2 separate regions of the Homo sapiens genome follow, and region 1 is linked to region 2. The links come from fine-mapping of genetic effects on gene expression. A gene starts in region 2. The other region holds a variant in brackets. All regions are shown on one strand. Distances are from middle to middle. Region 1 overlaps UBXN7 (UBX domain protein 7). Region 2 holds the start of TM4SF19 (transmembrane 4 L six family member 19).

What was found.
Region 1: its variant is fine-mapped to the expression of TM4SF19 in monocytes after LPS (Fairfax 2014, PIP 0.95).

Annotation. Positions count from the first base shown.
Region 1 is chr3:196,424,858-196,427,769 of GRCh38, forward strand. All of the region lies in intron 1 of UBXN7 (UBX domain protein 7), which reads right to left. Among named protein-coding and RNA genes, the nearest start is that of UBXN7-AS1, 5.1 kb to the right of the region's middle. The variant C/CA (reference allele first, on the strand shown) is at 1,528.
Region 2 is chr3:196,336,723-196,339,634 of GRCh38, forward strand. TM4SF19 (transmembrane 4 L six family member 19) reads right to left here and starts at 1,666. Exons shown (of 5, transcript NM_138461.4): 1 at 1,542-1,666. TM4SF19-DYNLT2B (TM4SF19-DYNLT2B readthrough (NMD candidate)) reads right to left here and starts at 1,698. Exons shown (of 6, transcript NR_037950.1): 1 at 1,542-1,698. RefSeq lists enhancers at 1,190-2,389, 1,756-2,050 and a silencer at 1,799-1,970.

The sequences.
Region 1 (2,912 bases), 88 kb after region 2:
ATGCCCGGCTAGTTTTGTATTTTTAGTAGAGACGGGGTTTCACCATGTTGGTCAGGCTGGTCTCAAACTCCTGACCTCAGGTGATCCACTCGCCTCGGCCTCCCAAAGTGCTGGGATTCCAGGTGTGAACCACCGCACCTAGCCCCATTTTTATAACTTTAACTGCCATGAATATGACAGATTTCTCACTCTTCTTTCTAGACCCAAATATTCATCTGCTTCAACAGCTCCATCTGGAAGTCCTATTAGCAGCACCTTAACTTATCCAAAACTGAGCTAACCATCTTCTCCCCACACCTTTCTGCTATTCCATACCTTCATAAATAGCACTGTTACATACCTAGGTGTCCAAAACAGAATCCTAAACTTCATTTTGACTCTGATTTCTTCCCATACCTTTTGGAGTCCACTTCTCCGCCACTAACTTTTTTCAGGACACCACTATCTTTCTTGGGTTAATATAACAGCCTTCTACTGATCTCTGTGCCTATCTCTTCTCCATTATAGCCAAGTAACTCTTTCTTTAAAAAAAAAAAAAAGGTCAAATCAGATGTAACTCCTTTTTTAATAAATAAAATTTTAATACATTTTGTAGAGATGGGGTCTCACTATGTTGCCTAGGCTGATCTCAAGCTCCAGGCCTCCCACCTCAGCCTCCCAAAGTGCGGGAATTATAGGTGTGAGCCACAGTGCCCAGTCTCACTCCTCTAATTAAAACCCTTGACTCCCCACTATTCTCAGAATAAAGACAAGATTTTTTTTAACATGGCTTATAAGGCCCAACCCAATCTCCCATTTATCTCTTGAGGTCCATTTATTGCACTAGCTGTGCTTTACTCATTTGGAATTATCAATTCCCTAAACCGATTGTCTCCCCTCTCTCATCTCTGTCTGTATACATGTCTGCCCAATTCCCCTCCAAGTCTCTGCATGTTTCTCCTGCAAGAAACATCTTCCAGATTTTAGATAAAAAAGTATTTATTCTGGGAAGGTTTTCTTGACCTCCCTCTTTTGTGCTCCAGTATTAGCTCCTTACCATTCTCTCACTGTATTCTAATACCTATTCGTGTGTCTCTATTCCTGTTAACCTTTAAGCTTTCTGAGGACAGACACCACGCCTTGCTCACAGTTGTATCCTTAAGATGTGAACCATGCCTGGCACGTAGCAGTCTACCAATAAATGAATCTACTAGTAAGATTCCATTCGCAACTCAAAATTACCTCCCTTAAATTTCTGAAACTTCAGCCAGGCATGGTGGCTCAAGCCTGTAATCCCAGCGCTTTGGGAGGCTGAGGTGGGTGGATCACCTGAGGTCAAGAGTTTGAGACCAGCCTCGCCAACAAGATGAAACCCCATCTCCATTAAAAATACAAAAAATTTAGCTGGGTGTCGTGACGCGCATCTGTGGTCCCAGCTGCTCAGGAGGCTGAGGCAGGAGAATCACTTGAACCGGGGAGGCGGAGGTTGCAATGAGCCAAGATCACAGCACTGCACTCCAGCCTGGGTGACAGGATAAGACTTCGTCT[C/CA]AAAAAAAAAAAAAAAAAGAAATTCTGAAATGTATTCCCTATTGAAACTATTCTTAAAATTCCTGAAGTTTTCTCTTAACATCTATAATACTGTGACCACCTTTCCAGACACAGAGAACTTAATCATAGTTTAATATTAACCCAAGAGAAAGGAAATGTTCTGTACAAAAGCATATGAATGAGGCCAGGCGCGGTGGTTCACACCGGTAATCCCAGCACTTTGGGAGGTCGAAGCAGGAGGATCACCTGAGGTCGGGAGTTCGAGACCAGCCTGACCAAAATGGAGAAACCCCGTCTCTACTAAAAATACAAAATGAGCCGGGCGTGGTGGCGCATGCCTGTAATCCCAGCTACTCAGGAGGCTGAGACAGGAGAATCGCTTGAACCCGGGAGGTGGAGGCTGCAGTGAGCCAAGATCGTACCTTTGCACTCCAGCCTGGGCCACAGAGTGAGACTCTGTCTCAAAAAAAAAAAAAAGAACATGAATGGAAATTGGCCATAAAGTTAAATACCACAAACATGACAGCCCCTAATTTTTATAATAAATATGCACTCATCAACCATCTGAAAGATTAAGGTCTCTTCTACAACTGAGGTTCTATAATTTTCTCAAGTATGTTATTGCCGCTATGCACAAAGCTCTATGAATTTCCGTACCAGTAACCTCTTGTACTCTTCTTAGCCTCCACTTTCTATGCCCTCACATTTGTCCTTAGACTGCTAGCTTATTTTTCACCTGTTCTATAGTGTCTATGTATCCCTCACCTTCACTCCATGAATTATTCTGATTACACATGTGCACCAGTGTATATGTGTAGTGGATGTCAGCCCAAAGTTGGTGCTAATGGAATACTGCCATGGCTCAAAACATTTTTACTTTTATTTACTTTTTCTTTTTTTGAGACAGGGTCTCGCTCTGTGCTCGCTTCAGCAGCACATATACTAAAATTGGAGACAGAGTCTCGCTCTGTCGCCCAGGCTGGAGTGCAGTGGCTGGATCTCGGCTCACTGCAACCTCCGTCTCCTGGGTTCACGAGATTCTCCTGCCTCAGCCTCCTGGGTAGCTGGGACTACAGGCGTGCACCACCATGCTCAGCTAATTTTTGTATTTTTCGGAGAGACAGGGTTTCACCAGGTTGGCCAGACTGGTCTGAAGCTCCTGACCTCCGGTGATCCACCCGCCTTGGCCTCCCAAAGTGCCTGGGATTACAGGCGTGAGCCACCGCACCTGGCTTCAAAACATTTTTAAAAATTGCTCTTTCAGAATAGATCCAGCTGCATATTTTTCCTTCATGTTTTGAGAATTGATATGACTTCTGAGTTTTCAACAGTAATTCAAAGCCATGTATGATAAATATCAGAGGAGATCAAACAGTAGTATTGTA
Region 2 (2,912 bases):
AAACCTTAAAACCAGGCTGCTGGGGAGTTCCTTGTTCTGTCCTGAGGTCCTAGCTAGGTGAGCACGTCATCGGCTAGATGTCCAGGCAACAACAGAAGTGATCGGCTCAATTCCATGGAGGAAGAGACCGCACATTCTCTACATCTGTGTCTCTCCCTCGCCACCCAGCAAGGCTTTTCTTTCATTCTTCCTTCAGTCGGATATTTATTAAGTGATCACTACCTGACAGACACTTGGGGGGCTAGGGATATAACGATGAAAAAGATGTAATCCCTTTCCTTGAGGAGCTTAAAGTCTAGTGGGGACACTGCTGACGCAAAAAGCAATTCTTTTTTTTTTTTTTTTTTTTTTTTTTTGAGACACAGTCTCGCTCTTGTTGCCCAGGCTGGAGTGCAGCGGCATGCTCTTGGCTCACTGCAACCTCCGCCTCTCGGGTTCAAGTTATTCTCCTGCCTCAGCCTCCCAAGTAGCTGGAATTACAGGCATGCACCACGCCCGGCTAATTTTGTATTTTTAGTAGTGATGGGTTTTCGCCATGTGGGTCAGGCTGGCCAAAAAGTAATTCTAATCAAGTGTGGTAAGAAATAGAGCAGACATGAGCAGGGCGGGAGAGGGCCTCTACCCCAGTAATGTCAGGTGACTATCAGGTGATGGCCAGGCGGTTGTTACACTGTCTTTCTAAAATAATATTGGTCACAGCCAGCGTTGGGAAAGACAGTCTCCCAATAGATAGAAAATACCTGAACTTGGTGATCAGCAGCTTCCTGGTAAGAGCTCAGGAATTGGGCGAGTGGGCTCAAGCATCTACACTAAGAAGCAAAATGGTGGAGTTTAGCTGGTGTGTGTGACCTTCCTCTAGTGCTGCTCCGCGGGTAAGGGAAAAACGCCTCAAGTGAGCATGCGCACGACTTCAGTAAACACACTGCGCATGCGGCCCCTCCCAAGTGCCTGTGCGGCAGGCAGGCGCCAAGTCAAGGGTCTAACAGCACATTTGGGTGTCTCAAGTCACGCACTTGGCCCTTTTCCAAGTGTACTTTACTTCCTTTCATTGCTGCTCAAAAACTTTTTAATAAACCTTCACTCCTGCTCTCAAACTTGCTTCAGCCTCTCCCTCTGCCTTAAACCCACTTCTGCCCCTCAGCCGAATCTCTCCCCCGAGAAGGCAAGGATTGAGTTTGCTGCAGACTCGCTGGATTCACAGCTGGTAACAGTAAGTACCAGGCAGGGGCATCCAACTTAAGGTGTCATGGAAGCACATGGAGGAACCTAATCCTATCTGGCAGAAGCAAAACGAAGCTTCCCGGAGGAAGGGCTGCCCATGCCCAAACTTGATGGACGATGAGATACTAGGCAGGAAGAGTATTCTAGGTGCAAAGGCCAGAAGTTGACAGACTGAGGCAACAGGAGAAGGTAAGTGAATGGCGCAAAGTCACACAGACGCCAAGCTGCAGAGCCAGGCTCACTGGAGTGGAAGCGTGCACTCTCATCTGTGAGGCTAGGCTGTTCCCTGGCCGTCACCTCACCCTTTCATCTCTGCTTACCTGCATCTGGTGTCAAGAATCAGAATGGGAGAGACAGAACCTGGAGAAAGGCTGCGTCTTCAGAGTGGGGCTCCACTCCTCCAGCTCCAGGGCTGGACCTGAAGGTTGTCTTTCCAGGACTCTTTCCAGGAGGGCCAGGGAGGCTCTGTATATACGTAGAGGTCACCCAGGCGTGTGTGTGTGCGCGCCCCCACGCCCCTGCCCACAGGCCTGCATTGAAGGCGCTTCCGCTCCCCGGAGAGCCCTGTCCTGATGACCCACCCTCTGCTCATTTTCATGTGATTCTAAGGCAGGAAACGGGAGACATGGCCTCATGAGCTCCGCTGTCCTGATGAGTCACTGGATGCACCCGTGAGAAACACCTCACCCTCCGCTCTCCCCAGGCAGCAACACTTGCCACACCCCAGCTGTTCCTGTCCTCATCTGCCACCCCGCGAAGAATTTCGGCTCTTTGACAGAACAGCACCGAGCAGGGCAGCCACCCCTTTTTCCTCATCACTCTCCTTACCTTGCCCTTGGCTGACTCGATGTGTTGCATGGTTCCTGTACTAGACGTCTAACTTTTTTTTTTTTTTTTTTTTGAGACAGGGTCTCACTCTGTCACCCAGGCTGGAGTGCAGTGGCATGATCTCGGCTCACTGCAACCTCCGCCTCCCACACTCAAGCAATCCTCCCACCTCAGCCTCCTGAGTAGCTGGGATTACAGGCACCTGCCACCATGCCCGGCTAATGTTTGTATTTTTAATAGAGACGGGGTTTTGCCATTTTGGCCAGGCTGGTCTCGAACTGCTGACCTCAGGTGTTCGCCTCAGCCTCCCAAAGTGCTGAGATTACAGGTGTGAGCCACCGCACTCAGCCTCTTGTTCAAGCCCCAGGCCACTATCATCTTGTACCATACTCTCACCAAATTGCTGAGGATTTTGTGGTGCTCTCTGTGTGGGAGATCCGTGACCCTCTATGGACAAGCTCCTATTCAAGATTCAGTTCAAACATTCCCAGTGAAGTCTGCCAGGATTTCTTTACTCCGAGTTAGGTACTTCTTTCTCTATGCTCCCATTGCATTTTAAACATCTAGATATTATATACAGTAAAGTGCACAAATCTTTTCTTTTCTTTTTTTTTTTTTTGAGACGGAGTTTCACTCTTGTTCCCAGGCTGGAGTGCAGTGGCACAATCTCAGCTCACTGCAACCTCTGCCTCCTGGCTTCAAGCAATTCTCCTGCCTCAGCCTCCCAAGTAGCTGGGATTACAGGCACGTGCCACCACGCCTGGCTAATTTTGTATTTTTAGTAGAAACACGGTTTCTCCATGTTGGTCAGGCTGGTCTCAAACTCCCGACCTCAGGCGATCCACCCGCCTCCGCCTCCCAAA